Homo sapiens: one gene and its partner. The protein of the gene in region 1 interacts with the protein of each later gene in a biochemical or structural test. Each region holds a gene or a part of one and is shown in the gene's direction. Other genes may lie near its edges.

Evidence for each region.
Region 2: the proteins of FBXO42 (region 1) and RBPJ form a complex in vitro, tested with the Homo sapiens proteins (one study listed by BioGRID).

Annotation. Positions count from the first base shown.
Region 1 is NC_000001.11:16,310,510-16,326,999, reverse strand, and holds part of FBXO42 (F-box only protein 42), read left to right. Parts: intron 1-10,272; exon of another isoform or gene 10,273-10,563; intron 10,564-11,564; 5' UTR 11,565-11,581; coding exon 11,582-11,831; intron 11,832-16,490. UniProt on the Homo sapiens protein: Substrate-recognition component of some SCF (SKP1-CUL1-F-box protein)-type E3 ubiquitin ligase complex. Specifically recognizes p53/TP53, promoting its ubiquitination and degradation.
Region 2 is NC_000004.12:26,419,524-26,435,423, forward strand, and holds the end of RBPJ (recombining binding protein suppressor of hairless), read left to right. Parts: intron 1-1,027; coding exon 1,028-1,202; intron 1,203-4,818; coding exon 4,819-4,956; intron 4,957-5,107; coding exon 5,108-5,220; intron 5,221-9,196; coding exon 9,197-9,337; intron 9,338-10,374; coding exon 10,375-10,530; intron 10,531-10,895; coding exon 10,896-10,999; intron 11,000-11,168; coding exon 11,169-11,484; 3' UTR 11,485-15,400; downstream 15,401-15,900. UniProt on the Homo sapiens protein: Transcriptional regulator that plays a central role in Notch signaling, a signaling pathway involved in cell-cell communication that regulates a broad spectrum of cell-fate determinations.

The DNA of each region.
Region 1 (16,490 bases):
TGAGAGAGAGATGGTGCTGTGTAAGTGAGCAGGCTTCCTGGTTGACACCTTTTGGGATTAGGAAGATTAAATGGTTCATAGTAAACTGAATGTTTTCAGAGCAGACCTATCTTGTTTAAGGGCCTTTAGCCATTACTTAGATGACATTTATGTAGCTCATCTCCATGTTTTATTAGTTGTTTGTTTAAATTATGTGAGTAATGAAAGGTGTAGTTGATTCTGGCTTACGTGTTTTAGATGACTTATAAATCCTAGAAAAAACATCACCTATCAGAATTAACTCAAGAATAATTTTTTTCTTTTTTTTTTTTTTTTTGAGACAGGGTTTGGTTCTGTTGCCCAGGTTGCAATACAGTGGTGTGATCTTGGCTCACTGCAACCTCTACCTCCTGGGCTCAAGTGATCCTCCCACTTCGGCCTCCTGAGTAGCTGAGACTACAAGTGTGCACCACCACACCCCACTAATTTTTGTATTTTTTGTAGAGATGGAGTTTGACCATGTTGCCCAGGCTGGTCTTGAACTCCTGAACTCAAGTGATCCACTTGCCTTGGCCTCCCAAAGTGCTGGGATTACAGGCATGAACTACTGCACCTGGCCTCAAGAAGAAATTTTAAAACTCGAGTAGTTGTATTAACAATAAAGAGGCTGGGCACGGTGGCTCATGCCTGTAATCCCAGCACTTTGGGAGGCCCAGGCAGATGGATCACCTGAGGTCGGGAGTTCGAGACCAGCCTGACCAACATGGAGAAACCCCGTCTTTGCGAAAAAATACAAAATTAGCCGGGCATGCTGGTGCATGCCTGTAATCCCAGCTACTTGGGAGGCTGAGGCAGGAGAATCGCTTGAACTCAGGAGGTGGAGGTTGCAGTGAGCCGAGATCGTGCCATTGCACTCCAGCCTGGGCAACAAGAGCGAAATTCCATCTCAAAACACACACAGACACACACAGACACACACACACACACACACACACACACACACACAAATTTGGGCACTGAAGTTCCATTTTACCTTTCTACCAAATAAAGCATTTTGCTGAATTTAAAACGTATGGTTCTCCATATGAAATTTTCGGCCAGGTGTGGTGGCTCACGCCTGTAATCCCAGCACTCTAGGAGACCGAGGTGGGCAGATCACCTGAGGTCAGGAGTTTGAGACCACCCTGGCCAGCATGGTGAAACCCTGTCTTTACTAAAAATACAAAAATTAGTTGGGCGTGGTGACGCATGCCTATAATCCCAGCTACTCTGGAGGCTGAGGTAGGAGAATCGCTCGAGTGAGTTCACTGCACTCCAGCCTAGGTGACAAAGCCAGACTCTCTCAAAAACAAAACAACAAAAAAAAGAAAGTATATTGATGGGTAGTTTGTGGAATACTTTATTTTTCCATTTTTAAATTTTTTCTGTTTTATTAAGGGAATCTTAATTGGGTAGCACACTAATGAGTTCACCATTTTTAAAAACTGCAGCTGGTATCTGTTATGAAATTTGGTATGCTTTATAAAATAGCTTCCTGAATTTGTCATAATAGCTCACAGTTTGCTAATAGCAACAATGGTTATGCCAAATTATTCTATTTCTAGGCTTTTTTTTTGGTCAAAACATAGACTGTCAATAATAAGGAGTCTCTAGATTATATGCTTCGTTAATGTAGAATTTAAAATATTAAACTGTGTACTTAAAAACAATTGGGTAAAAAATGTGTTTTTTAGTTTAGTTTTGTTTTGTCTTAAAGGTAATTCTGTTTTGTTGTTGTTGTTTTGGGACAGAGTCTTGCTCTGTTGCCCAAGCTGGAGTGCAGTGGCATGATATTGGCTCACTGCAGCCTCCACCTCTCGGGCTCAAGAGATCCTCCCACCTCAGCCTCCCAAGTAGCTGGGACAACAGGTTTGCACTACCATGCCTGGCTAACTTGTGTATTTTTTATAGAGACAGGGTCTCACTTTGTTGCTTTGGCTGGTCACGAACTCCTGGGCTCAAGCAATCTGCCTGTTTTGGCCTCTCAAAGTGTTGGGTTTACTGGTGTGAGCCACTGCACCCAGCTCTAAAGGTAATTCTGTAAGTGGCAAAGGATATCAGTTTAAGTTACAATAATTTGACAATGTTTAATCCCTTCACCTTCCCCAATTTTATTCTCTGAAATTCTACCTCTTCTTTATTTTTGTTGTTGTTTTTTGATTTTTTGAAACGGAGTCTTGCTGTGTCACCCAGGCTAGAGTGTAGTTGCGCGATCTTGGCTCACTGCAGCATCTAACTCCTGGGCTCAAGCGATGCTCGCACCTCAGACCCCCTGTAGCTGGGACTACAGGTGTGCGCCACCATGGCCAACTAATTTTTGTATTTTTTGTAGAGAAGGGTTTTGTCATGTTGCCCAGGCTGGTCTCAAATTCCTGGACTCAAGTTTTCTGCCTGCTTTGGCTTCCCAAAGTGCTTGGATTACAGGCATGAGTCACCACACTTGGCTTCTACCTAGTCTTTAGAGCTCAGCTGAAATGCTTGTCTGTGAACCTTCCTTATACTAGTTAGAAGCCATCTCTTTCTTTCTTGAACTGTTAAGGCTTCTTGTTTTGTCTCATAGGTCATTTATTATATAATGTTCTGTGTTGGTATTATTAATTTATGTGTCCTTGGCCCTTAGTGGGTCCATCTGTTTGACAGCAAATAGTGACATATCTTCTTTTTGTACCCTGTGTGGGATCTAAGCATAATATATTTTTTCTTTTTGTGTTTTTAATATTTGATAGCAGTCAAGCTTGCAATAAGCACGGTATTTTTACATATAGCAAATGTTTCATTGATATTTGTTGAATGCACGGAGTAAGGTAGAATTTTTTATTTTATCCTTTTTCTACTTTCTATAACTTTTTCATTTGAGTTGATAAAATGATAACCGTGGTATATTCATAAGAAGGCTTATTGTCTTAGATTGAATCACTTTATGATCTTCTTTAAATCTCTCATTCAACAGTATATTTTCAAGAGTAGCATTTAGTACTTAGCCTACATTAGTGCTGCTGAAGTGGTTCACTTTATGAGTTCATAATGACATCTGTTCAGGGTTGCTGCTTTGTCCCTAAAGCCTCAGAAGCCCTCATGCTGTGGGATGACTGTGGGTTCCTCCATTCAGTCCAGTCCCTTCTTCTTTTTATTTTTCTCTGCTCCTCCTTCTTGTCCCTTATTCTTTTTTTTTTTTTTTTTTTTTTTTGAGACAGAGTCTTGCTTTGTCACCTCACCCACCTTGGAGTGCAGTGGTACGATCTCGGCTCACTGCAATCTCCGCCTCCTGGGTTCAAGGGATTCTCCTGCCTCAGCCTCCTAAGTAGCTGGGATTACAGGTGCACACCACCACGCCTGGCTAATTTTTGTTTTTAGTAGGGGTCTCACCATATTGGCCAGGCTGGTCTCGAACTCCTGACCTCAAAAGATCCGCGCACCTCAGCCTCCCAAAGTGCTGGGATTACAGGCGTGAGCCACTGCGCCCGGCCCTGTCCCTTATTCTTTAGTTAGGTCTCAGTCCTTTATTTTATTATCTATCGGTAAGAAGTTCCCTTAATTACTTTTTTTGTTTGTTTGTTTGTTTTTGAGACGGAGTCTCGCACTGTCACCTGGGCTGGAGTACAGTGGCACGATCTTGGCTTACTGCAACCTCTGCCTCCCAGGTTCAAGCGATTCTCTGGCCTCAGCCTCCCGAGTAGCTGGGATTACAGGTGCCCACCACCACGCCCAGCTAATTTTTTGTATTTTTAGTAGAGATGGGGTTTCACCATGTTGGCCAGGCTGGTCTCAAACTCCTGACCTTGTGATTCCTCCGCCTTGGCCTCCCAAAGTGCTGGGATTACAGGCGTGAGCCACTGTGCCTGGCCAATTACATTTTTTAACCTTTTGAATTTGTGACAAATACGTTTGATTGCATTTTAAATGTTCAGCTTCCTTTTAGGTAAATGAAGTGTATTCCAACTTTAATAAAGATGTGTTTACCACAAGAGGATTGTCAGATGTCTAGTTGAATAGAAACCAAAGGCAAAAAACTAATCAAATATTGCCCTCAAATCTGGCAATGGCTTTTAAATGCATAGCAGTTTCATTCCCATGTTGAAATTCTTTTGAGTTGATTCTTTCTAGGTTACGGATTTTCTCCAATGAATTCAGAGTAGTTTCTTGATATCTACTATCTTTACAAAATCTTCCTGAAGTAAGTGGGGAACTTTCATTACTTAGGGAGGTTTTTGTTTCTTACTCTGTGTGACTTATGCTAGGTTTCACAGCATTAAAGCTAGAAACAGTGGCCACATCTTCCAGTCTCAAAATCTTAACCTTAATTTATACCTCAGAAGGGTAAGGCATTCAGACTTTAGAAACTGATTTGTGTTTAGTTATATGTAGCATAGTTTTTTTTTTAGTTTTTAAAATTTTTTTTGTATTTTGAGACAGAGTCTCGCTCTGTTGCCCAGGCTGGAGTACAGTGGTGCGATCTCAGCTCACTGCAACCTCCGCCTCCCAGGTTCAAGCAATTCTCCTGCCTCAGCCTCCTGAGTAGCTGGGATTACAGGCATGCGCCTGCACGCCCAGCTAATTTTTGTATTTTTAGTAGAGACGGGGTTTCCCCATGTTGGTCAGGCTGGTCTTGAACTCCTGACCTCATGATCCACCCACCTCAGCCTCCCAAAGTGCTGGGATTACAGGTGTGAGCCATCACGCCTGGCCTAGTATAGTAGTTTTTCGGAAGAAAAAGATACTACTGGGCCAAATAAATAGTTTCCTCTCTGGCAGCAGACTCTCAGGCCAGTATATATACCTTAAAAGGTACAAAATTCCATAAACCAGAGATTTGTATTAATTCTGACCAATAAAATATTTTGACAACATCTAGTAACATATAAAGGTAGGATCTACCATTTTCTGGATATACTAATGATGTAATTTTTTTTACATGTCCCAGGTAGCTGGGATTACAGGCGCCTGCCACCACGCCTGACTAATTTTTGGTGTTTTTAGTAGAGACAGGGTTTCGCCATGTTGGCTAGGCTGGTCTTGAGCTCCCGTCCTCAGGTGATCCACCCACCTCGGACTCCCAAATTGCTGGGATTACAGGCGTGAGCCACCACGCCTGGCCTAATGATGTAATTTCTATTATAAAATAACTACTGGGCACAGTGACTTATACCTGTATTCCCAGCACTTTGGAACATTGGGACAGGAGGATCACTTGAGCCTAGGAGTTCAAGGCTGCAGTGAACTATAATTGTGCCACTGCACTCTAGCCTGGGCGACAGAGCAGAACCCTATCTTTAAAAAAAAAAAAAAAACCCTTGCGAGCTCAGCACAAAGGTGTTCTGAGTAGACATGTCAATAAACCTTACACTCATTTGAATGCCTAGTACTAAGAAGACAAAGATGCCTAGGCCAATGGTCCTGCCTCCAGGGAGTTCAGATTCCAGTACATTCATTCAGTCACGTTGGGGAAGCTGAGAAGGTGTAACACAAATGTGAAGGGTGAGAAGGACTTCTTTTAAACAGTTTCATGAAAATTACATTCATTGAGTTAGTATGCTTACGTGTGAAAAGTTTGTAGGGCTTCTTTTGGCATGAAAACAAGAAAAACTCAGAGTTTCAAAATGCCTCTATATCCTTGGGGGAATATGAGTGATGATTTTATTACCTAATCATGGAAGTGAAAAAGAAGGGCTATGCAAATTGGTGTTGGGCATGTAATTACAGAGGAATTGCATCTGAGCTCACCCATGTGTGTTCTCCTTGGCATCTGTGGCTAGGGCCAAGTTAGCAAACATGCCCTCAAAGGTATGGGGTTTGATGTTTTTGTGGAGGGTGTAACAGTTGAATGGTGGAAATTGCTTGACATTGGCTATTACAGCAGTATGAGTCTCTTTATGTTGGCTTGCTATTGTATTTTAAGACAATTTGGAAAGAGAATGAGTTGTTTTATTGAATCAAATTTATTCTGATTGGGAAAAATAGTAATGTAAATAAACTTTTGCAGCCTCCATTGATTCATTTTGTTCTGCAACAGACCTTAGGCTTATAGTCTGTCAAAATGTTGTGCAAGGGAGCAACTATTTAATTTAAATGTCAACCATGCAGCCAAAGTCAAGGAATCCATTTCTTTGGGCTCTTTTCCTTGGTGAATTTAGAGCTGAGTGGAGGTTAAAAATATAAGAAAGTTAGGCTGGGCACGGTGGATTACTTGAGGTCGGGAGTTTGAGACCAGCCTGGCTAACATGGTGAAACCCTGTTTCTACCAAAAATACAAAAATTTGATCATGCCACTGCACTCCAGTCTGGGGCACAGAGCGAGACTCCCATCTCAAAAAAAAAAAAAATTAGCTGGGCATAGTGATGTGCGCCAGCTACTTGGGAGGCTGAGGTGGGAGAATCACTTGAACCTGGGAGGCAGAGGTTGCAGTGAGCTCAGATCGTGCCACTTCACTCCAGCCTGGGTGACAGAGTGAGACCCTATCTCAAAAAAATAATAAAACAAAAAATATATATGAAAGTTAATAAATCAGTGAAGTTAGCCAGTAGGAAATGATAATATATAAGGGAACAAGTAAGAGGGACTATGGGAAGTGATATTTTTTCCAGTAATAAAAGGCATGGTTTGATTTTTTTTTTTTTTTTTTTGACATGGAGTTTGCTCTTGTTGCCCAGGCTAGAGTGCGGTGGCATGATCTCGGCTTACTGCAACTTCCACCTCTCCAGTTCAAGTGATTCTCCTGCCTCAGCCTCCCGAGTAGCTGGGATTACAGGCATGTGCCACCACGCCCAGCTAGTTTTTTGTATTTTTAGTAGAGACGGGGTTTCACCATGTTAGCCAGGCTGGTCTTGAACTCCTGACCTCAGGTGATCTGCCTGCCTTGGCCTTCCAGAGTGCTGGGATTACACGCGTGAGCCACCATGCTCGGCGACTGTACGTTTTAGGATAGGAATTTGGGCTGGAAATGGAGGTCTCTGTTGTTTGAAAGGCCTCCCTCTAGCGAGTCAGTCATGTTGAAAAACACCTTACCCACGTGAGCATGGAAAGAGGCATAACTATCTAGGATCCTTTTTCTTTTTCTTTTTCTTTTTTTTTTTAAGATGGAGTCTCACTCTGTTGCCCAGGCTAGAGGGCAGTGGCGCAATCTCGGCTCACTGCAACCTCTGCCTCCCAGGTTCAAGTGATTCTCCTGCCTTAGCCTCCCGAGTAGCTGGGACTACAGGTGCACGGCACCATGCCCGGCTAATTTTTGTATTTTTAGTAGAGACGGAGTTTCACCATATTGGCCAGGCTGGTCTCGAACTCCCGAGCTCGTGATCCGCCTGCCTAAGCTTCCCAAAGTGCTGGGATTACAGGCGTGAGCCACCACACCTGGCCTAGGATCCTTTTTCTAATACAGTTTTCAGGAAACCCATTATAATACTCTTCTCTGCTTTTGGGGAATGAAGGGAATTGCTCCTTTCTCACTGTCAGTGCCTTTCCCCCATACCACCAGGTGGACTTAAGCCACTCCAGTCCTTCCAAGTAGCCACCAATTTGCTGATTATCACTAAGATTCTAATAGCCACTTTGCTAGGAAACATTTGTAGTATCATAAGCTTTCAGCCAGTTTGGTAGATAAATTATCTGGGAAGCAATTTTATGAGTTCATGTTTTCATTTTCCTTAATGTGATTCTTCCAGTTTTAAAAGATGTTACACATAATTAGTGCATGAATTACTGCAGTGGTAGAGATGAGGTAGGAGGTTTCTGTTCTCTGCTCTCCCCGGTCTGTCACTTTTTGGAACATTTCAGATCTTTCTCAAAGCCCCAAAGTATATTTCGAGATTACTCTTCGTTTCCTTCCCCACCCCCCGCCAAATCCAGCTTTTCCCAATTTTGGGAAGACCCTTCTTATTCTTCCTTTCATCAGTGCTAGAGGGAATGCTGGAAATTTGTAAAGTGGGGTGGCATAGTAAATGGTCTGGGTAGAGTGTGTGGAGCAAGAGAAATAAATGTATTAAAAAATAATAAAATTATCCCTTCAAAAGGACTTACTGTCCATCTGTAAGGAGGCTGGCTGAAGCTGTTAGCTCCTTTAGGGTCTGCCTCAGCTTTGGAGCCTTCTGCCAGTGGTTGAGCGAAGCAGTGATTTAGAGCCTTGCCCTTTCTGCCCAGTACTAGATTCCCCTGAGTGGCCGTCTTTGCTCCCGAGCTCTCTGTTGGACAGGCTTTGTCAGGTCTGCATTGTGGTCTGATGGCTCCTCTTGCCCAATCCTGCTGCTTCTGCACTTCTTCCAGAAGTTACTTCCCATTAAACTTTTTCCATTCTGAATTCTGTCTAGCATCTGCTTCCTGGAGAATCTAATCTGCAACACAGTTCTTACATAAAACACCCTATTTCCTTCATTTTACTGGTTTTACCTCAGACTTTGTGTATAATGTCATAGGAGTATAAATGAGATGCCTGCCTCTATGTGTATGCTTTCTTTGTAGAAAATTTAGGAAATACAGATAAGCAGAAGCAAGACATTTTTAAAATTATTAATAATATTCCCACTAGAAGTAACTGCTGATAATGGCTTATTTTGGCAACTTTATTTATTTATTTAAGACGGAGTCTTGCTCTGTCGCCCAGGCTGGAGTGCAGTGGAGCGACCTCAGCTCACTGCAACGTCTGCCTCCTGGGTTCAAGCGATTCTCCTGCCTCAGCCTCCCGAGTAGCTGGGATTACAGGTGTGTGCCACCACACCCAACTAATTTTTGTGTTTTTAGTAGAGACGGGTTTCACCATGCTGGCCATGCTGGTCTCGAACTCTTGACCTCAGGTGATCCACCCGCCTAGGCCTCCCAAAGTTCTGGGATTACAGCATGAGCCACTGCACCCGGCCAGTATTTTGACAAACTTTAGAGAAGTGCGTGAGTATTCAGCTCAGTAAATTTTTTACAAACAAAAAACATCTGTGTAACCAGTACCCAATCAGGAAACAGAACTTTACTAGTACCTCAGATACCTCACTTGTAACAGCATAAATTTTGCCTCGTTTTGAACTTGATATAATTGTAATCGTATAGTATATATTCTTCTTCTTCTTTTTTTTTTTTTCTTCGAGACATGGTCTAACTCGGTTGCCCAGGCTGGAGTCCAGTGGTGTGGTCATGGCTTCCTGTAGCCTCAAACTCTTGGGCTCAAGTGATCCTCCTGCTCAGCCTCCTGGGTAGCTGGGACCACAGATGTGTGCCAGCACACCCGGTTAATTATTTTTTTGTAGAGATGGTGTCTCACTTTGTTGCCCAGGCTGGTCTCAAATTCCTGACCTCAAATGATCCTCCTGTTTTGGCTTACTAAAGTGTTGGGATTATAGGCATGAGCCACTGTGCCTGCCCATTCTTCTGTCTTCTGTTTGTTTGTTTGTTTGTTTGTTTGCTTGTTTGAGATGGAGTCTTGCTGTATTGTCTAGGCTGGAGTGCAGTGGCCAGTCTTGGCTAACTGCAACCTCTGCATCCCAGGTTCAAGTGATTCTCCTGCCTCATCCTCCCAAGTAACTGGGATTACAGGCACATGCATCACCAAGCCTGGCTAAGTTTTGGATTTTTGTTTGTTTGTTTGTTTGTTGAGACGATCTCACTCTATTGCCCAGGCTGGAGTGCGGAGTGATCTCTGCTCACTGCAACCTCCACCTCCTGGGTTCAAGTGATTTTCATGCCTTAACCTCCCTAGTAGCTGGGACTGCAGGCATACGCTACCACGCCCAGCTAATTTTTGCATTTTTAGTAGAGATGGAGTTTCACTGTGTTGGCCAGGCTGGTCTTGAACTCCTGACCTCAGATGATCTGCCTACCTTAGCCTCCCAAAGTGCTGGGATTACGGGTGTGAGCCACTGCGCCCGGCCTAATTTTTGTATTTTTTAGTAGAGACGGAGTTTCACCATGTTGGTCAGGCTGGTTTTGAACTCCTGACCTCAGGTGATCCGCCCGCCTCAGCCTCCCAAAGTGTTGGGATTACAGGCGTGAGCCACTGCATCCGGCCTTCTATCTTCTTTTGCTTAACATTATGTTTGAGAGATTTATTTATATGTATATAACCTGTGGTTCTTTGCTCTATATTTCATGGCGAATGTACCACAATTTATTTGCTCTGTTGTTGATAGACATTCATGTTGTTCTAGTTTTTTACTGCCTGGATCTCTTAATGATTCATATTTTCTATTGTAAATACTGCCTTGTATTTGGTATTTTAGCAAGTGAAGTCTATTCTTGGAACATTTACTATCTTTTTTTTTTTTTTTTTTTTTTTTGAGAGTCTTTCTCTGTGTCCCAGGCTGGAGTGCAGTGGCATGATCTCGACTCACTGCAACCTCTGTCTCCCAGGTTCAAGCAGTTCTCCTGCCTCAGCCTCCTGAGTAGCTGGGATTACAGGCACGCGCCACTACACCTGGCTAATTTTTGTATTTTAGTAGAGATGGGATTTCGCCATGTTGCCCACGCTGGTCTCGAACTCCTGACCTAAGGTGATCTGCCGGCCTCAGAATCCCAAAGTGCTGGGACTACAGGTGTGAGCCACTGCACCCAACCAAGAACTACTATATTTTGTAAGTGGAAATAACCACTATTAAAAACAGAATGCTATAAATAGAATGATGTCTTTTGTTTCTAAAGTTGATGTACTAGAGCGATGTGAAAACAGTAACAAAAGAGATATTTTGTGGCAAAGTTATCTCGGGGTAAACACCACAGTTGCAGGCACCGCTGGCAAGTATTCTCCGGGCAAACAGGAAAAAGGTTAAGTGAATCGTCTTGCATAAAAGTTTAGAAAAACTGTTCTTTCTTTTCTTTCTTTCTTTTTTTTTTTTTTTTTTGAGATGGAGGTTTGCTCTTGTTGCCCAGGCTGGAGTGCAGTGGCATGATCTCGGCTCACTGCAACTCTGCCTCCCAGGTTCAAGTGATTCTCCTGCCTCAGCCTCCCGAGTAGCTGGGATTACAGGCATGTGCCACCATGCCCAGCTAATTTTCAATTTTTAGTAGAGACGGGGTTTCTCCATGTTTGTCAGGCTGGTCTCAAACTCCCAACTTCAGGTGATCTGCCCGCCTCGGTCTCCCAAAGTGCTGGGATTACAGGTTTGAGCCACCATGCCTGGTCGAAAAACGGTTATTTCTTAACCCATATTCTCAGAATGTTATTACTTTTTGCAAGACCCAGAGTTAGTTTTTCCTTCAAAATTTGAGGTCTTAGATCATTGTTACTGGCCAAGGAGGCTAGTTGCTCTTCCCTTTGCTGTCGGTCAGTCAGATCCTTGAGTTAGAAGAATTGTTGGAGAACAAGTTTTCTGGTTTACGATTATACCAGAACTTGGCTGCCACTCTGGTTTTCAGTGAAGAGAAAAAATGTAATCAAAAGCCTTTGGGGATGGGCTTGGTATTTGAGCTGTACCTGTCGAATTAAGGTGGCTCACAAGTGGTATTGGAAAGTGCTGAAGAGCAGATTTCACACTGAGAGTGGAAACGAAATTACAAAGAGCTTGGATGTACATGCCTGAATTGTTTTTGAGCTGCTTTCAGTGGAATACTGATATTTATGTTTTACCTATTACAGCTGTTGAGTGGAATGTCATGGCCAGCTCCTCGGACAGTGAAGATGACAGTTTCATGGCTGTGGACCAGGAAGAAACTGTGCTGGAAGGGACAATGGATCAAGATGAGGAGCCCCACCCAGTATTGGAGGCTGAGGAGACTAGACATAATAGGTCCATGTCGGAGCTGCCAGAAGAGGTTTTGGAGTATATCCTGTCCTTTCTCTCACCGTATCAGGAACACAAAACTGCGGCCCTTGTCTGCAAACAGTGGTATCGACTTATCAAAGGTACTGTGGATAGGAGAAAGGTTTATTTATTGATTTCAAATTTCACTGATTTATTTTTAGACTCCAAATTTAGTTTTTTTCCTCCCTTAAATGTATTATGGTTATAAAATCTAGCATTAGACGATACTACCCGGTTTTCTTTCTTACCCTGGTTAGTTTAATGAACAGCTTGAATACTGAAGTATCTAATCCCATTTGCATTTTAAAATGAGGATTGTTTTTAAAAGCTTCATATTCTTAGAGTTGATCTGGTTAATTGTATTGTTCTTTTCTTTTTTTTTTTTTCAGACGGAGTCTCACTCTGTCGCCCAGGCTGGAGTGCAGTGGCGCAATCTCGGCTCACTGCAAGCTCTGCCTCCCGGGGTCATGTTATTCACCTGCCTCAGCCTCCAGAGTAGCTGGGACTACAGGCGCCTGCCACCACGCCCGGCTGATTTTTTGTATTTTTACTAGAGACGGGGTTTCACTGTGTTAGCCAGAATAGTCTCAATCTCCTGACCTCGTGATCCGCCCGCCTCAGCGTCCCAAATGGATTAATTGTATTGTTCTTGAATGGGCAAAATAGAAATGGATATGGGATAATAGTAATAGCCAATGTGAACATAGCTTTTATCACGTGTCAAGCACTATTGTAACTGCTTTACATTCTCACAGCAAACTCTGACTAGAAGATCCTGCATTTTATAGATGACAGAACTGAGTGAAACACAGTTAACTTATTTACACGGATAGTAAATGCAGGATTAAAGATTCACGTTCAGGCGATCTGGCTTTAAAGTCCATGCTCTTATTAAGGCTACAGATTGTCTCTGAGTAGCTACTTTTAGCAACTGCTTTCTTGAAAACATTTGTCACTTGATTTTATCTCTAAACAGCAAAGACCCTATATACATCTTTTACTTTTTAAAATATGTTTCTTGGCCGGGTGTGGTGGCTCACACCAGTAATCCCAGCACTTTGCGAGGCCAAGGCAGGTGGGTCACCTGAGGTCAAGTTCGAGACCAGCCTGGCCAACATGGTGAAACCCTGTCTCTACTAAAAATACAAAAATAAGCCAGGTGTGGTGGTGGGCACCTAATCCCAGCTACTCGGGAGGCTGAGGCAAGAGAATTGCTTGAACCCAGGAGGCAGAGGTTGCAGTGAGCCAAGATCACGCCACTGGACTCCAGCCTGGGCGACAGAGCAAGACTCTGGTCCTTTTTTTCATCCTTTTCCTAATCAAGATTTCAACTTTTTGCTAAATGTTTAGGTGCTAGACATGCTGTATTTTTAATTAGCAGAAAGCAGTTAGTGGCTTCATTGCATCTTAAGTGGAAAGGGCCCATTTTTTGTTTGAAGATGATCAATCAAGTGGAGTCATTTTTTATCAAGCGAGGGTTGTCTCAATGTGTTCTTTCCTGGGGGAACAAGGCAGCCAGAGATATAACAGAGAACAATCTTTAGATCAAAATCAATCAGTTTTAAAATGTTTTCCTTGCATCAAGGTGGTTCTCATGGAGTCCTTGTCAACTCCCAAAGTCCACCTAGAGGGCTAAGAACCAGCTGTATTGAAACTGCTCTGTTGGCCCTGTGCTCATTTGATTATAACTGCCAATACTGGCACACACAGCCTGCTTCTATATTCTGAGTTGATGGGCTCTTCAGGAGAGATTGGCTCCCTGCAATGTGGAAATACATGGTTTCACTTCTCAAATAAAGGGAGGAAAACCACAGGTAAGGGACTGTGATTTAATCAAATATATGAATTTATCCTTAGGTTTTCTTTGGCAGTCTTATTTTGGTTTTCTTTCTTTTCTCTTTCTTTCTTTCTTTCTTTCTTTCTTTCTTTCTTTCTTTCTTTCTTTGTTTTCTTTTCTCTTTCTTTCTTTCTCTCTCTTTCTTCTTTTCTTTCTTTTTTTTTTATTTTTATTTAGAGAAGAACCCTACCCTAGTACTCACAATCTTAGATCGATCTTTCTGGCAGAAGTCACTGACAAGATAGTTTTGTTTGTTTGTTTTTAATTTTAGTAGACTTTTTTTTTAAAGAGCACTTTTAGGTTCACAGCAAAATTGAGTAGGAGAAACAAATTCCTCTGAGCGGACACAGTGGAACACGCCTGTAATCCCAGCACTTTGGGAGGCCAACGTGGGCGGATCGCCTGAGATCAAGAGTTCAAGACCAGCCTGGTCAACATGGTGAAACCTCATCTCTACTAAAAATACAAAAATTAGTGAGGCATGGTGGTGGGTGCCTGTAGTCCTAGCTACTCGGGAGGCTGAGGCAGGAGAAACGTTCAAACCTGGGAGGCAGAGGTTGCAGTGTGCCAAGATCGAGCCACTGCACTCGAGTCTGGATGACAGACAGAGATTCTGTCTCAAAAAAAAAAAAAAGCAAAACAAAACCGATTTCTCATATATCCCCTACCCTGACACATGTATAGCCTCTCCCATTATCAACATCCCCCACCAGAGTGGTACATGTGTTAAAATTGATGAACCTATACTGAAACATTCCATAAACCCAAATTCCATAGTTTACATTAATGTTCATGCTTGGTGTTGTGCATTCTATGGGTTTGGATGAATGTATAATGACACATATCCACTGTTATAATATCATAATAGCTTCACTGCCCTAAAAATCCTGTATACTCTCCCTGTTTATCCTTTCCTTCCACCAACCACTGGCAATCACTGATTTTTTTACTGTCTCCATAGTTTTGCCTTTTCTAGAAGGTCATATAGTTGGAATCATACAGTATACAGCCTTTTCCGATTGGTTTCTTTCACTTAGTAATATTTGCATTTAAGTTTCCTCCTTATTTTTTGAGACAGAGTCATGCTCTGTTGCCCAGGCTGGAGTGCATTGGTGCGATTTTGGCTCACTGCAACCTCCGTCTCCCGGGCTCAAGTCATCTTCCCTCCTCAGCCACCAGAATAGCTGGGACCACAGGTGTGCACCACCATGCCTGTGTAATTTTTTTAAAAAAATGTTTATAGAGACAGGATCTTGCTGTTACCTAGACTGGTGTGAAACTCCTAAGCTCAAATGATTTTCCTGCCTCAGCTTCCAAAAATGCTGGGATTACAGGTGTGAGCCACCGTGCCCGGCTTCCTCCATTTCTTTTCATGATTTCTTAGCTTTTTTTTTGTTAGTGCTGAGTAATATTTCATGTCTAGATGCACCACAGTTTGTTTACCCATTCACTTACTGAAAGGGCATCTTAGTTGCTTCCAAGATTTTACAATTATTAATAAAGCTGGTGTAAGCATCCATGTGCAGGTGTTTCTGTGGACATAAGTTTTCAGCTCCTTTGGGTAAATAAATACCAAGATGCACAATTGCTGGATCATATGGTAAGAGCATCGTTAGTTTTGTAAGGAACTGCCAAACTGTTTTAAGTGGCTGAACCATTTTGTACTCCCACTAGCAGTGAATGAGAGTTCCTTTTGCTCCACATTCTCACCAGCATTTGTAGTAGTAGTTGGAATTTTCATCATTCTCATAGATGTGTAGTGGTATCTCATTTTAATTTGCATTTCCCTGATGACAAATGATATGGAGCGTATTTTCATGCGCTTATGTGTTACCCACATACCTTCTTTGGTGAAGTGTCTGTTTCAGGTCTTTGACCCATTTTTTATTTTATATATACATATGTATATATATATATATATATATATATTTTTTTTTTTTTTTTTGAGACAAGATCTTGCTCTGTCACCCATGTTGGAGCACAGTGGCATGGTCATAGCTCATTGCGGCCTTGACTTCCTGGACTCAAGCAATCCTCTCGCCTCAGCCTCCCAAGTGGCTGGGACTACAAGTGTGTACCACCACACCCAGCTAATTTTTGTATTTATTTATTTATTTTTGTAGAGATGGGGTCTCACTGTGTTGCTCATGCTGGTCCTGAACTCTTGGGCTCAAGCAATCTTACCACCTGGGCCTGCTAAAGTCCTGGGATTATGAGCCACCATGCCAGGCCTTTGACCCCCTTTTTTTTTTTTTGAGACGGAGTCTCACTCTGTCGCCCAGGCTGGAGTGCAGGGGCGCGATCTCGGCTTATTGCAAGCTCCGCCTCCTGGGTTCATGCCATTCCCCAAAGTGTTGGGATTACAGGCGTGAGCCACCGTGCCCGGCGTTGACCCATTTTTTAATTGGGTTGTTTGTTTATTAATGTTGAGTTTTTTTGTTTGTTTGTTTGTTTGTTTTGAGATGGAGTCCGGCTCTGTTGCCCAGGCTGGAGTGCAGTGGCACAATATTGGCTCACTGCAACCTCCACCTTCTGGGTTCAAGCAATTTCCTGGCAATTTTTGTATTTTTAGCAGAGACAGGGTTTCACTGTGTTGGCCAGGCTGGTCTTGAACTCCTGATGTCAAGTGATCCACCAAATAAATAAATAAATAATATTTAATTTATTTGAGCACCTGCCCAAAGTGCTAGGATTACAGACGTGAGCCACCGCGCCTGGCCCTAATATTGTTGAGTTTTAAGAGTTCTTTGGATATTCTATATAACTGTCTTTTATCAGATATGTCTTTTGCAAATACTTTCTCTCAGTCTGTGGCTTATCTTCTCATTCCCTTGACAGTATTTTTCACAGAGCAGAAACTTTTAGTTTTAATGAATTCTGGCTTATCAGTTATTTTGGGGAGGGGATAAGGTCTTGCTTTGTC
Region 2 (15,900 bases), on another chromosome or scaffold:
CTGTTTCCTGAGTAGCATTTGCTCTGCTTTTTAAAAGGAAGATACAGGAGAGGCAGTTGAAGAAACTTGTTTAGCTTAATTTTAAAGTGGAATGTTGATCCTTTAAAAAATATAATTCGATACTTTAGATACTTATGCTGTGTTTCAGCATCATTTATCTTATCTGGAAAAGGACAATAATTTAGACCCCTCCCTGATTCACAGGGATCAAGAGAATAGGAAAGATTTTAGAATTGTTATATATAATATAAGCAGTAGCATTTTGAAGGGTCTTTGCTGTTTGTAAAGTGCTATATCTCTTTATCTTTTCAGTTATCAGAATTTAAATTCTGGTAAACTGACATAATGCCTTGAGCATTTTCTCTAGTACCTTTAAATTCAGTTCTTCTGGTGATACATATGAATCGTCCTTTTGGGCAAAGTTAACCATTTTAAAAATAGTTCTTTAAAGTAATGCTTATATAATCTCTTTCTGGTTTAAGATATTTTATAATCATCCAGTTTGTCTATCATTGTTTTCCTCAATCTTATAAGTGATTACTCTAGTGTTCAGCTATATAAAGAAAAATATTTTATGCACTATTTTGAGAAGAACTACTGCTAAAATCTTTTACATAATTTCTTGAATTCTGATAGCTTTATTATTATTTTTTTTTTGGAGAAAGTCATTGATTTTTTTTAACTGTAAAATTTATTTTAAAAGTTACTGCTGTAACGTTGAGTGATAATTCCATGATACAGTTGTAGAGCTATGTAAAACAAGAAAAGGCTGTTTTTTTAAATGGTCTTTTAAAGAGGATACAATAGATGACAATGTTTGTGTTCTACAGACTTTATAAGGAAGACTTTGTACTTTTCCGAAATCAATTTCAGTAATTTTTATAGTTGATAATTTTTAGAGTTGGTTTTATCAGCTATCCCTTGGAATTGTTTTACTTATTACTTAAACCATGGCCATTCTGAGTTTTAGGTACTACATAAACAAACAAGGTTTTGCTGCTGTTAAAACTTTACTTTTCTTTCACAGAACTATTGCACAGCCAAAACATTGTATATATCTGACTCAGACAAGCGAAAGCACTTCATGTTGTCTGTAAAGATGTTCTATGGCAACAGTGATGACATTGGTGTGTTCCTCAGCAAGCGGATAAAAGTCATCTCCAAACCTTCCAAAAAGAAGCAGTCATTGAAAAATGCTGACTGTATGTATGCTTTTCTTATTTATCCCCAACTGCCACCATGAATTAATAAGACAGACTCTTTTTTAAATTAAAAATTGCCTTTTCAATAGCCAATTAATTCTTTACTAATATTTTTGTGGCCCTCTTTATTGTCTCTCTTTTTTTAATCGTAAATCGACAGTATGTGGTCTAATGAAGCAGTTCTTAACCAGAGTTGGTTCCTTAATGCTCCCAGGGACATTCTGGGGAAATGGGAGATTTTCTCCTTCTGTTGTTACAGTGACTGGAGGGGGTGATGTTGGCTTTGGGTGTCTTGAGCCTGTGGTGCTGAATTGAATGTCCTGCAGTGTCCAAGGTAGTTCCCATTCCACAAAGAATTGATCTACCCACAATGTCAACAAGTACCCCTTTGAAAAACGCTACCAACTAAATGGGCTTTGGCAGGCCTTCCTGAGAATCTAAACACAATTTTTAATGTGGTTGCTCTGGCAGAGACTGCTGTCTCATCAGCCTATTTTTAGACTACCAAACAAGTATGTTTGAATTATAAATTTAACCTCCACACCCATTTTTCTTTTTTTAACTTTTTATTATGGAGACTTTTCTTTTTTTTTTTGAGATGGACTCTTACTCTGTCGCCCAGGCTGGAGTGCAGTGGCAGGATCTCAGCTCACTGCAACCTCCACCTCCCGGGTTCAACCAATCCTCCCTGCCTCAGCCTCCTGAGTAGCTGGGATTACAGGTGCCCACCATCACGCCCGGCTGATTTTGTATTTTTTAGTAGAGATGAGGTTTCGCCATTTGGCCAGGCTGGTCTTGAACTCCTGACCTCAGGTGATCCACCCACCTCGACCTCCCAAAGTGTTGGGATTGCAGGCGTGAGCCACCATGCCTGGCTGAGACTTTCAAATTTATATAAAAGGGAGAAATTAGCCACCCAGCCTCAACAGGTTTTATCAATTCTGTTTCATTATCTCCATCACCACCAACACCTCTTCGTCTTCTAATTGCTGGAGTATTTTAATGTAAATCTCATCCTATCCTTTCAACCAAAATTTCTGCAATAGTGACTAATACATGCCCTTTTTTTTGAAACATCATTATACGTAACAGTTGACAGCAGCTCTTAAGTGTCATCTAATATCCTATTTCATGTACAGATTTATCAGATTGACCCAGAATGTCTTTTTATAGTTTTTTTGCTTTGTTTTGTTTTACAGTGGTTTGTTCAAACATGGATTCAGATAAGGTCCACACATTTTAGTCTGTAATAGTTTCTTCTCACCCTCTCTCACCTTTGTTTTCCTTCTATGTCATTTATTTGTTGAAGAAACTGGATCATTTTTCCTGTTGTGGAATTCCATATTCTGGGTTTGGCTGATTATATGTTTCTCTGTCTCTCTTACTTTCCATGAACTGGTGGTTAGACATAAAGACTTTCAGAACTGATTGGTAAGATATACATTTATTTCCATTGGATTGGAAGTCATAATATCTGATTATCCCCTTTTTTTTTTTTGGTCATGTTGAGATTGATTATAGTAGTTCAGCTGTTGTAAGTCTATTCCACCCATAAAGTTCCTCAGCAAACTTTAACCTAATGGTTTTAATAGTCATTGATGATGTTTAAATCCATTTCATTAAATGCTGCAAAATGGTGATATTCTAATTTTTTAAATTCTAACTTCTGCATTCGTTAGCTGGAGTTTTTTCTACAAAGAGGGACTTTGCCATATCAGCTATTTGCTTCAATTGTAATATGTAATGAAAAGGCAGGATTAGGTGCTTGTTTACTCATTTGCAGAATAATAACATTCCTTGAAAGTGACCAGTGGGGTTTTAGGGTTTTTGTTTTGTTTGCTTTCTTTTCATTTTGTTTTATTATGAGATCATGGTTTTTGTTGTGGTTGTTGTTATTGTTGTTGTTTTGTATTGGTTATATTTTAGTCCACTCAGTCCACTAATATCACTTAGTTTTTATTACGGAAAAATTTCAAACACTCTCAAGTAGACAGAGTTGCACCATACAGTGAAACCTCTTATGTTCATTCTCTAACGTCAACAGTGATCTTAACATTCAACCAATCTTATCTTCATCTATACCTGTACTCCAGCCCCACTTTCTTCTGCCCTTATTTTAGTTTGATGCATATCCAATCAGTGTTCAAATTTAAAATGGTCTAAAATATTTTAAAAATCAGATTGCTTGAATCAAAATTCAGATCTACCACTTAGTACAGTTTATATTGTGATATGTCCTTGAGTATAATCTATGGACACCCCCTCAACTCTTGCAATTTATTTAAGTAAGTTGAAACATTTAGTCACTAGAGATTTCCACGTACTAGATTTTGCTGATTTCATTTATTTGGTATAGTTTAATGTATTTTCTGTAAATTGGTAGAGTCAAAAAGAAATAGAGCGTGGGCCTAGTTGGAAAGACAGATTTCATTCAGTACTATTGCAATAGGGGAAAATAGAACCAAGTTCCATTTCAGAATACAACAAAGACACTTGGGGATGAAGCAGAGTGAGAGGGTCAATGGATGGAAACTTTCTAAAAGGAGACATCAAAGGTAGAAGGTTTCTTTCTGACCTGACTTAGGATTCCTGCTAAAGGCAGGCCAAGGTGATCATAGATCCAGAGTGGGAGATAGTTTAGGAGGATTCTTACTATATATAACTGAGCTAAACAGACTGATGACGGGGCTCAAGGACAAATACTAGTTGATTGCTCAGAGCAGCCTGCTTAAAAGTATGGTCAAGGAGAGAATCTTTAGTGTAGAATGGTGATCAGATTTAAGTTTGTTGTCCTTTGGTTCTTGTTTTCTTTCTGAAAAGCAAGACCTGCTTCAAAGGTGGTGGTGTGCTCTCTTGCACTAGGAGGTATATTATGTCTTGTATTCAGGCTATTTGCATTTCAGATTACACAGTTTTATGTAACTGCTTTAACTTTGTGTTTGTACTGAATATTAGTTTCTTGATGGCAGAGAACATATTTCACTTTCAGAATGTTTTTCTGCTTACATGGATTTATTTTCAAGAAATTTCATACAATACTTTATTTAGAAGAAAGCAGAATTTTCTGAAATCACAGTATGCAGAGGCATTTACCATCAACTCTGACAAACATCCTTCTGGTCCCTTTTCTATGCATGTATTCTGTGGAATTGGATGCAAACACATATTAAAAATATATACATTTGCCTAATGGAACCACAGCATACAGAGTATTTTATAGTCTGCTTTTCCATTCAGTGATATTCCAGGAAAATATTTTCTTATCAGTGTGTTTAGATACACATCCTTTCAATAGGTCATCATTTAAATTTCTACTGTCTAACATTATTTTAAAAGTAAGTTTTTCTCTAATAATCAGCACCACATTAAACATACTGTGTAGCTTTCACTTTAAAATTATTTTTATGGACATTTGATATCATTAGCTTGACATTATTAATAACAGTTACCTTGACTTTTTGATATCATCTGTACTGTCTTGGAAAGTGAAAATATTTGTCAAACTGTTAAATGATAAGAAAGAATAATTATACACTGCCAAGCAGAATTTCCTTCTTTTGCTCCCTCCCCACCTTCTGCTCCAATCACATAAATAAGAGCTGTTTTTTCTTTGCAGTATGCATTGCCTCAGGAACAAAGGTGGCTCTGTTTAATCGACTACGATCCCAGACAGTTAGTACCAGATACTTGCATGTAGAAGGAGGTAATTTTCATGCCAGTTCACAGCAGTGGGGAGCCTTTTTTATTCATCTCTGTGAGTATAAAAGTGTGCATTTAATGTTTTTAGTGTGAAATTGTTAAAATCTTTTGATGAGATACATGGATATATTAAGTTTTGTCATTTGCCTAATCATAAAATAAATTTAAAAAGATGACAATTTGATTTATTTTTCCACCTACTGCAGTGGATGATGATGAATCAGAAGGAGAAGAATTCACAGTCCGAGATGGCTACATCCATTATGGACAAACAGTCAAACTTGTGTGCTCAGTTACTGGCATGGCACTCCCAAGATTGGTATGGCTCTACTTTTGCTTTAGTGATAATGTGAAGTAAAAATTAATTTCTTAAACAGGAAAATCACAACATTCAAATGGAAAAACACACCTCAGTTTTATGCTTTTTAATTTTAAAAGGTATGTTAGTAATCAGTGCTGTTTATAATTGACAGTTATGCTCTACCTTATTTCAGAAATGCTTTAAGGTAATAGCCAGTTTTTACAAGTACATTCTTAATGATTTTTTCTTAAATGATTTCCAATATATTTTGGTGGCAATTTCCTTTTTGGCTGTTTATCTGAAGATGTTCAGTAGAGGGCACTATAAATTACATTTCTTTTCTTTACTAATGCGGATAAACCGTATTCATTTTTTTGTGGTACCTGCCATATCCCAATGTAGGACCAAGTTTGCAAACAGAAGACATTCTTATTTCTTTTGAAATATAAGCGTAATTTTTGTTAGCTTACTCTCTCACAAGAAGATAGATTTATTAAAACTGAAATAAAATTGGTATTTCTAACTGGGAGCAGGGCATAGGATTTAGGGCTTTTGTTCAATAGAAGACATTGAAACTCGGCCACGCATGGTGACTCACACCTGCAATCCCAGCACTTCAACAGGTGAAGGCAGGAGAAGGAGAAGTGACTAGCCCTGGCATCACTTGAGCTCAGGAGTTCGAGACTAGTCCTGGCAACATGGTCAGACCGTCTTTACCACTGACCCCGCCCCCCCAAAAAAAAAATTAGCCAGGCATGGTGGTGCACACCTGTAGTCTCAAGCTTAAGTGGGAGGATCACTTGAGCTCGGGAGGTCAAGGCTGCAATGAGCGGTGATCGTACCACTGGACTTTAGCCTGGGCAACAGAATGAGATCCTATCTCAACAACCACAGAAAAGGAGATCTTGAAATTGTAAAAACTACTTTTGTTAGTAAAATGAAAACAAAAGTCCTCTATAGTGCCACCACCCTCCCAATTTTCCCTCTCCTTTTCTCAAACAATATAATTTACTTATATTCAAGATGAAGGGGATTTATGAGTAAGTTTGATTCAAGGTCAGACTGAAGAGGTTGGGTGAGTAGAAGAACATTTAGTATTAATGTTCCTAAACATGCCTCCTATTTATCTTTTTGGTGCAATATTCCACTGGCTTATATTTTCTGGGGTCATTTCAGCAGAGGCTGGTTTGATCTACAGTTTTCTAAGCCAGTGATTCATTTCTTTGTTACTGTTTTTTTTTTTTACCCTCTGTCATGATTGTACAAGGTGATTTTATTTCCCATGTCAATGCAATAAGCTAGAAGACATGAAGTATAGTAATAGTAATCTGTAAAGCTTTGCAGCTGAGACAAATTATAATAAAAAGGGTAACGTTAGGGAATGAAGGGCATGAAAAACAGAGCAGGAGACAGAAGCAAGCAAAAAATCTGAATCAGCATTTATTCATTTTTTTTCTCTTCTCATTCATTTCCTCTGTTCCAAGGATGATGTTCATTTGCTTTGGTGTTAAATGCTTGTACTGCAGAAGCACAACTTAGGAGGATGATTCTGATCACCAATAGTTTATAATACAAACCACTTAGAAGACAGACCCAAATTTAAAACAATGTTTTCATTTACAGTTGTTTGTAAAGTACCAGTAGCCTGCCTTGCTTGAAAGTCATTAATTGAGGTTTTTACACTCAAAACTGTATGGCTTTATATAAAAATGTTGCAATGAAAAATTAACTTATTAGAAAAAGTTGCAGTACCATTATTAAGACGCTGATACATAAATCTTTCCAGGGGTTTCATGACAGGAATTCTGACATGCAAAGTCGAGTGCCTCTCGTCATTGAGTTTACATTTTGATAGAGTGATAAGCCAAATACCCATGTAAAGGATTTATGTAGTGATGAAAAAACAAAACAAGATAATAAAGGGATAGAGAATTGGAGGAGCGCTTAGAGAGGTCAGGGAAGTCTTTTTGAAGTCGCAGTATTTGAAGAGAGCCCAGAATGAAGTCAAAGAACCGGTAATTGAGTGAGGAGCATTTCAGGCAAACAGAACAAGTACAGAACTGAAGGCAGGGGATGTATGATGACTAGTAAAGAAACCAGTGGAGCTGGAGCGGAGGGAGGAGAGGTCAAGTGGCAGGAACTGAATCTGTAAGGTTAGCACTAAGCAAGACCTTGTAGGATCCCTCTCTGTATCTAGGGTAAGGACTTCATATTATCTCTGCATGTTAGAAGGCCACTGGAGGATTTTAAACGGGGCACGATGGCCTATTTTTGTTTAGAAGTATATGTGTGGCTGCTGTGTGGAGAAGAGAGCATAGCAATGCGGCCGTGGAAGCAGAGAGACAGGTGCTTGGATTGTTGTCATAATTGAGGCAAGAGTTGATGCTATCTTAGACCCAGGATCATAGTATTAAGGTGGTGAGGGGTGACTGATTTGTTGGAAAGTGGACCTGACAGAATTTGCTGGCAGATTGGATGGTTGGGTGTGAGAGAAAGCAAGGCATCAAGGGTGACTCTTAAGGTTTTTGGATTGAGTGAATGCTAGTGCCATTTATTGACCTAGATGAGTTGGGGAAGGATCAAGTTTAGGAGGAAATCCAAAAATCTGTTTTCGATATGCTAAGCTTGAGGTGCCTGTTAGACATCGTAAGTGGAAATGTTGAATAGGTAGTTAAGTGTACATACAAGTTGAATGCAGGAGAGAAGTCTGGAGATAATAAATTTGGGAGTTGTCAACCTTTAAATTTTTAAACAGTATAGATTATAAAGAGAGGAAAAGAGGGCTGAGAACTCAGCTCTGGGCATTTTAAAGGTCAGTTGGAGCAGTTGTGGTCCTGAAAGCAAAATGTGTTGAGAGCTTCTGAGAAAATGAAGTAAAATGAGGACAGAAAAGTGCCGTGAGATGCATCTGTCTGGAAATCCTTGGTGGCTTTGAAAAGCAGTTGTAGTGGCGTCTTTGAGATAAAAGGTTGGAGAGATTGCAGGAGATTGGACAGTGAGGAAGAGGCGTTTGCAGAAAAACAGGTAGTGAGAGGGAGGGACAGGAGCATGTAGTCAGTGTTTTCTTTACTTTTGATTTTGAGATGAGAGATAGTTATGTTTGTATGTTGTTGGAAGTGATCAATAGAAAAGGAAACAGAGTAAAAGTTCTGTGTCAAATTTTGCTCTTCATCATGATCATCTACTTAGCCATTACCTTCTAGGTGTCAAGTGTCATATAGGGTTTGATAGTATTATCTTTCAGATATTCATGTGTTTTGTAGACTAGTTGCGTTATAAGCTTTAGAGATCAGTTGGACAGGCAGCCAGCCCTGGGATCAGGACATATTCTGGTCCTTCAGCTACTAAACTGGTAATTTTGAGCAATTTGTCTGACCTTTCTAAGCCCATTTTGTAATCTGTAAAATGAGTTTGATTTTGTTATGTTTTTAAATACGTAAGTTTTGGATAATAGATATAAGACGTTTGCACTGACAGTAGCCTTCTAGAGATTTTTCCCTTTGATGTTGGAGTATTTGTCATTTTATGCATATTATTGGAAAATATCATTAGAACTTGCTGTTCAAAATATGGTCTGTAGGCCAGCAGCATTAACATCAACTGGGATTTTGTTAGAAATGCAGAATATCAGGCCCCACAAGAGTCCTGCTAGATCAGAACCTGTGTTTTTCACAAGAACCCCAGCTCATTTATGTGCACATTAATGTTTGAAAAACACTGATCTAGAAAACAAGTGCCTGCCTGCCTGATTTTTTTTTTTTAGATGTTCAGGGAAGAGGGTAACAGTTTCTACATTCTGACATGCTTGCAATCTAAAAGTGTTTTTTATTCCTAGTCTTTTTGTTTGTGAATGTTTTTATATATGTAGGCATAGGACAAATAACTGTGATGTATTATTATGCAGTATATAGCTTCTATGTACTTTTGATGTTTTACACAAGGAAAATCCTTTCCATGTGTGGATGACCTTTTATTTCTTAATTGTTAAATATAGATAATTAGGAAAGTTGATAAGCAGACCGCATTATTGGATGCAGATGATCCTGTGTCACAACTCCATAAATGTGCATTTTACCTTAAGGATACAGAAAGAATGTATTTGTGCCTTTCTCAAGAAAGAATAATTCAATTTCAGGTATGTTTTTAAATTACTGGTGAAATCTAAAATGTACAAACTGTGAGGTTAGCAGCTTGCAAAAATATGAAATTTTCATTTGCTGTTAATTATATACAAATACATGAAGCTATACACAGATATTTATCTCAGGTATGAGCATCCTTAACACACAATCCTCAGACATGCAAGCAATCCTTCCTCAAGGAAGAACTCAAAATTATGAAAATGTTCTCAGAGAAAACAGTTAACATCTAGTTCCAGGGTTCTTAATTGAAGAACAAAGAGCCCCTCAGGATATCCAAAAATAGATTTTCAGTGCTCATTGAATCCTCTGAAATTGTGTGCAAACATTGTATAGACAAAGCATTTTTCTGGGTGAAGGCTCAAAATCTCATCAGATTTATGTCGTGGTTTCCGAAGATAGTAATGATGACATGCTTTGAAAGCTAATGTTTTACATTTACTCAGAAGGCTTTCATGAGGTTATGACATGGGCAGATGATTTAATAAGACAGTTATGGTTTCATGTGAAACTCCTTTGCAGAGAGATGCCCATACACACTGATGGGCATGCTGAGTCCCTGGTCTAGGTGTGTTAAGGTAGGGGTAGGGGCTTTGCCTTCCCATCTTGATTCCCTCCCATGGAACATGCATAAGCTTCTAGCTGTTGCCTAAGCATGAGGAGTCCCATTGTCTTTCTTAGGAGTCCTTGAAGAGTTTTAAACAGCCATTTACATCACAGATATTGATCTGCTGTTAATGAAATTGTACCTGCATTGGTATACTCATAATGGTTGTTCTGAAAGGTATTATTATTTAATATGTCACTGAAATAGTTTGTATTATAAGAAAAACTGCTGTCTATGGGGTTTCTGTATTAGCATTCTGTTTGTGTTTATGTAGGGATTGGCAAAGCACCATACTTTAGAAAGTTTATAAGTTTTTACTGAGTTATCTTCTTATTAACTCTTGTCTGAGGGTTACTTGGTAAAATTTTCTTATCCTATTAATACAAACTGTATAAAACTTAGTTTCTAAACTTCTTTCTTTATTAGGCCACTCCATGTCCAAAAGAACCAAATAAAGAGATGATAAATGATGGCGCTTCCTGGACAATCATTAGCACAGATAAGGCAGAGTATACATTTTATGAGGGAATGGGCCCTGTCCTTGCCCCAGTCACTCCTGTGCCTGTGGTAGAGAGCCTTCAGGTGAGAACGCCTAGTCCAAGTTGGCCTTCAGCTCTTTGCAGCTACTCTCAGCTGTGACCTGGCATCATTTCATTTCATGGGAGTTTTGATTTTTCTCCAATCGTCTGATTAGGGGATTTTTATATACACCATTTGTTGATTTAAAGAAAAAAAAACAAAATTAGGAGGAGCGTACTTGCCAGAAAATTTAAATGTAAATAAACTTGTATGTTATCTTGAAATGTTTTTAGCTAGCTTTGTAATAAAAAACATTTTAATTGCCCTTTTTTAAAAAAAACAAATGAAAGTTGAATGAGAATCTAATTTGTGTACTTTAATGAAAAATGAAAAGTTTTCTCAGTGTTGTGATTTTCTGTGAATTGCAGTTGAATGGCGGTGGGGACGTAGCAATGCTTGAACTTACAGGACAGAATTTCACTCCAAATTTACGAGTGTGGTTTGGGGATGTAGAAGCTGAAACTATGTACAGGTACTTGATAAAACTTTTTGCATCATCCAGAGGTTGTGAGGGGTGTGGGTACAGGAGATTCTTTCCTGGCACTGATTGTAATGTATTAAACAACCTTGTGTTAAGTCTCATTTTTAACATGTACTTTGCTTTTTAAAGTGTTTTTAAGTGATTTCTATTTCCTCCTCAGGTGTGGAGAGAGTATGCTCTGTGTCGTCCCAGACATTTCTGCATTCCGAGAAGGTTGGAGATGGGTCCGGCAACCAGTCCAGGTTCCAGTAACTTTGGTCCGAAATGATGGAATCATTTATTCCACCAGCCTTACCTTTACCTACACACCAGAACCAGGGCCGCGGCCACATTGCAGTGCAGCAGGAGCAATCCTTCGAGCCAATTCAAGCCAGGTGCCCCCTAACGAATCAAACACAAACAGCGAGGGAAGTTACACAAACGCCAGCACAAATTCAACCAGTGTCACATCATCTACAGCCACAGTGGTATCCTAACTACCGTCTTTTTGCTAGGACTTAAACTGACTTGAGTGTGGCAAAAAGTTAACAAAAAAGGAGAAAAAATGAACAATCGTTTGTGGTTTCTTGGGAAAACTTTTCATACCAGGTGATACTATTCAAAAACCCCGTTGTCTCCCTGCAAGTGCTGATTTGAAATGCAGAAGCCACAGTAAAAAAAAAAAAAAAAAAAAAAAAAAAGAAAAAAAAATCAAAATGTATAAATATTGGAAATCAAGTTTTTCAGCTGTTTTGTTGGTTGGTTGGTTGGTTTTTGTTTGGTTTTGTTTAAATGGGCAAGAAGTAAATAATGTGGCTGGAATACAAGTTGAACAAACTAGAAGACACAAATCTAACATAGTTTTTATGGACCAAGGAACTTGTATATTGTATAAGCTTTAGTAAAAGGTACATTTTCACCATACCTTTTTTTATATCACGGTATTATAGTACACCTTGTTACCAAATAGGTTGTTCTCTTCCCCACCCACCTTTGAGCTTTTGCTCTAAAATACATTCAGGTTCCAAGCCTGACCATCCTTGTTTAATCTATCATACTCTTCCAGGTTTTTTTTTTTTGGTCTAAGGCTGGAACTTTTTTCTTTTTTTTCAGCTGAAGTCTTATGACTTTTCATGAGTCAAAATTGTTTGGATTTCAGCAAGTCAAATCTTGCAAAGGCCTGCATATTTTTTTTAAGATTATATGAAGTCTGTGCAAAAGCTTTAAAAAAATGCCTCTGCCTTGCCTGCAATACATGCAATGTATGTTAACTTAGTCTCTCTTCTCAGACACTGTTGGTAGTTATTTCTGTGTTTTCCTTTTTTTAAAAAAAAATATGGACTTATTGTGGTTATCTGAGAGGTTCTAACATTCACATGCAATTTGGTGTGGCCATTTAGCTATTAATGAGTTAATGGCGCAGAACTTGTTGATATTTGAAGTGTTCTCTCCCCTTTTCCCATGACGTAAATACATAGGTGTGTTCCAGGATTTGTTCAGGTTTTTCCCCCCTCCTAATCTTGTACATAACTTGTATTATGTGTAAGTTAAACATTTTATTTTGAACTTGGAATGTTCCCAGTGATTTCATTCAGCAGGGTATTTTCTGCCTTGTTGGCAAGTGACAAAAAATATGGGAAGTATTTGCTACCAGTTGGTAGATGGTGCCCTTAATGGTAGAATGAGGAAAATGTCCGCAAAAGCATGTTTTATTATCTTTACTTTTTTGGGGGGTTGGAGGGGGTAGCCTAGCCAGAACATCATTGTAATCTTAAAACATAAGATGCTTTTATTAGATGATCAACTAAAATAGCTGGAAGACAGTACTTTAGAAACAGATAGTTGTAAGATTATAAAATGCAAATGTAACTTATGTTTTCATTTTTTTCTCTGCCTTTTTTGTTTGTTTGTTTTCTCTTTTCCAGTACTGAGCATCTCCACAAATGTCTCCTAACTCAGAAAATGTTTCTTTTCTTTTCAGTTGAGATTTGGTTGCATTCAGGGTTGTAGGTTGGCCTTGCTTGCTAACCCCGCCGGTTTTACCGTGCTTTCATTCCTGAACTTTGTTTATGCCTTTGTTTGGTTTCTTCGAAATTGCAGCAGACTCATTGGGCTACATTTAGTACAGGAACCACGTGTGTAATGTTATACAACACAGTCTAGTAATACAATCATCCCTCTTAGAGTAAAAACTACCTCTAGATTGTGGTAAGCTTTTACTGTCCCATAAAACAGGAGCCACAGTACCTTATGAATGCAAAACTGTAACTTCCTACAGTGTTTCCCTACAGAACATTGTCTTTCTGGTGTCCTGGGCTGTTTTGAAAAAGTTTCCATTAATAGACTTTTTAGAAATTATTATTAGTAGCATTTTTTTTCCAGCTTTGCTGTCTTCATCACTCACTCTATGCTCAGACTATGCCACTGTAAATATTCTTCCTAACATCTTTAAATCGCCTTTTCCTCAGTTTTCAAGGGGAAGGTCATTTGTAAAGCACGTTAGGTGGTTAAATCAGTTATTGCGGTTTTCTCTTACTGCAAGCCTTTTTAATCACCCCCAGGCTGCATTTTATTCTATATCGCCTTTTTTCTTCAAATCTGCTCCAATCACTCACTTCTCTCTTATAAGCTAATCCTGCCTCACACCTTAAATCTGTTTCAGTGATCAAGGGCAGAACTCATTGTGGCCTTATCTTTCTTTGTTGTAATTGTTCACTGTCTCTTTCTTACAGACCACTTATTTCTGAGTAGTAGTTATTCCTCTCTATGGAGTCATGGCAGGAATCATTACACAGTGCTTTTGTTCAGAGCATGGACATGTTCCTAGTGCTGCTTTGCTTTAACGGCCACAAGTTTCCTCCACTTCCTAGGTTTGGTATTTAGTTAAGGAATCATATTAAATTAACCAATAACAAAAGAGATACTTTTGAAGAACAAACTATTCCTTACCCATTTTTGTAGCTCAAAAATAATTTTTCAAGTTCATGACCTTATTAAAATGAACTTGTGTTTTTTTAACAAACATGTATGTTTTATTTTGATAGTTTCTTTCCGTAAGATAATTGAAATATTATACTGTAAACCCTTTTCTTTTCTTTTTTTGAAAAGTCCAAGAATGTACTTATACAGGCATTTTTCCCCACCTATTTTTGGCCATTCTCATACCACAGACTAAAGAGTGAAATGATTTGTCCATTGTAGCTTATTGTTTATCAGTAGTTCTTTTGTCAGCTGCTTACATTTTTTCTTTCATGGTTTTGTGAATCATTTTCAGTATGTAATTTATAGGAACCTTGTCCTCTGGTTATAGTAGACTGTGTGCCCTCCTCCAGTGATGGCATTATTAGACATGCTGGTCATTTACCCTCAGAAAGACTCTCTTATTAGAATGGTGAGTGCTTCAGTTATAGTATGTTTGAATTTTTAAAAAATTCTGTTTTAGAAATGTATCTTATGCTCTCATGACTATGCAGTTTCTAAACATACACATAGAAGCTGAGTCTCTGATCCAATATGTTTTTATTTGTTCCATTTAATTTATCACATAGATTGGGAAGGCAAGCTAAAAGCCTTAAAAATGCCCTTTATATTTTGAGTGATTTCAGCGTTGAACACTAGTATACTATCTAAATTTGCTGCTCACTTTCTTTAAACTGTGGCAATTAAAGGCATGTTTATACATGACTTAATCGTGAAATGTTTGTCACTCTTACTGCACAGACTTATCTGCAATCATAACTGGTTAGTTTTTTTGTTTTGTTTTGTTTTATTGTTTTTAATGAAACTGGTACCATCTGTGCTTTCACAAAAAACTTCCAATGCCATTTTTGAGAACTAACCTAACTAGTCATGCTAACCAGAAAATCCACTGGGGAGGAGGTTCCTTTTGAAACAAAATGCTGTTCAGTTAGTAACCAAGTTACTTTGATTGCAAAAGCAGCTGTGTTTCTGATAAGTACTGAACAAATGTGTGTAATTTTCTGTGCCAGACTTATGACTTTGTTTTCAAGCACTGTAATGTGGGATGGATGGTTAGAAACAATAATATATTAGGGTTTCTGTTTAACCCTTTCAGGACTGAACTGTATCTCCTTTTGTTAATTTTCCCCTGTGTTGTGATAAATGTTTGCCAGCATTCAGTACTGTGTTGGTCCAGATGTAGGTTTATATGCTCATTTTTAGCTTATTTCTTGTACCTTGCAGCATGCTCTACGCATTCAGTCCTTAAGGGGTTTATTTTACAAACTGTGCGCCTGTAAGGTTTATTAGCAATAAGATAGAAAATTGAGCAAGTTTATACCATAATTTTGTAGAAAAAAAGAATCTGCTCAGTTCCATATTTCATCCGTGAAAAACTTGCAATACGAGCAGTTTCAAGGAATAAATAAAAAGGAAATGTAAACCATTGTAAAAGTCTTCTGTCGAATGTGCCTGATGCATGTATTATCGTCTTTTATTTCAGAATACTTCATAAAGATAAAATTAAATTCTATATTATAGTTGGTGTATTTACAATCTTACCATGTACATCACATCAAAGTGATAGCTCTACTAATTTAATTTCCTTGTCAATGTTTTTAACTATATAGTGCTTTAAAGAGATTTTTTTTCCCTGTGTAAATGGTGAAATGGGCTTTGTCACTCAAGGGTCATATCTCTCAAATCAGAATCATTTAAAGCTGATTGCAACAAAATTTGAGAATATTACTTAGCAATAACTTACTTTTCCAATATAAGATGGTCATTTTGTCTGCTATAGGAAGGAACACATAATCGTTTGCCTTTGAGGGGTGGGGGTGGGTCCTAGAAGTGGGGATAGTATTCTTTAATATGAAACAAAGTTAAATGGGGAAGTTACATAAGTTTTTTTTTTTGAGACGGGGTCTTGCTCTGTCGCCCCTGAGCTGGAGTGC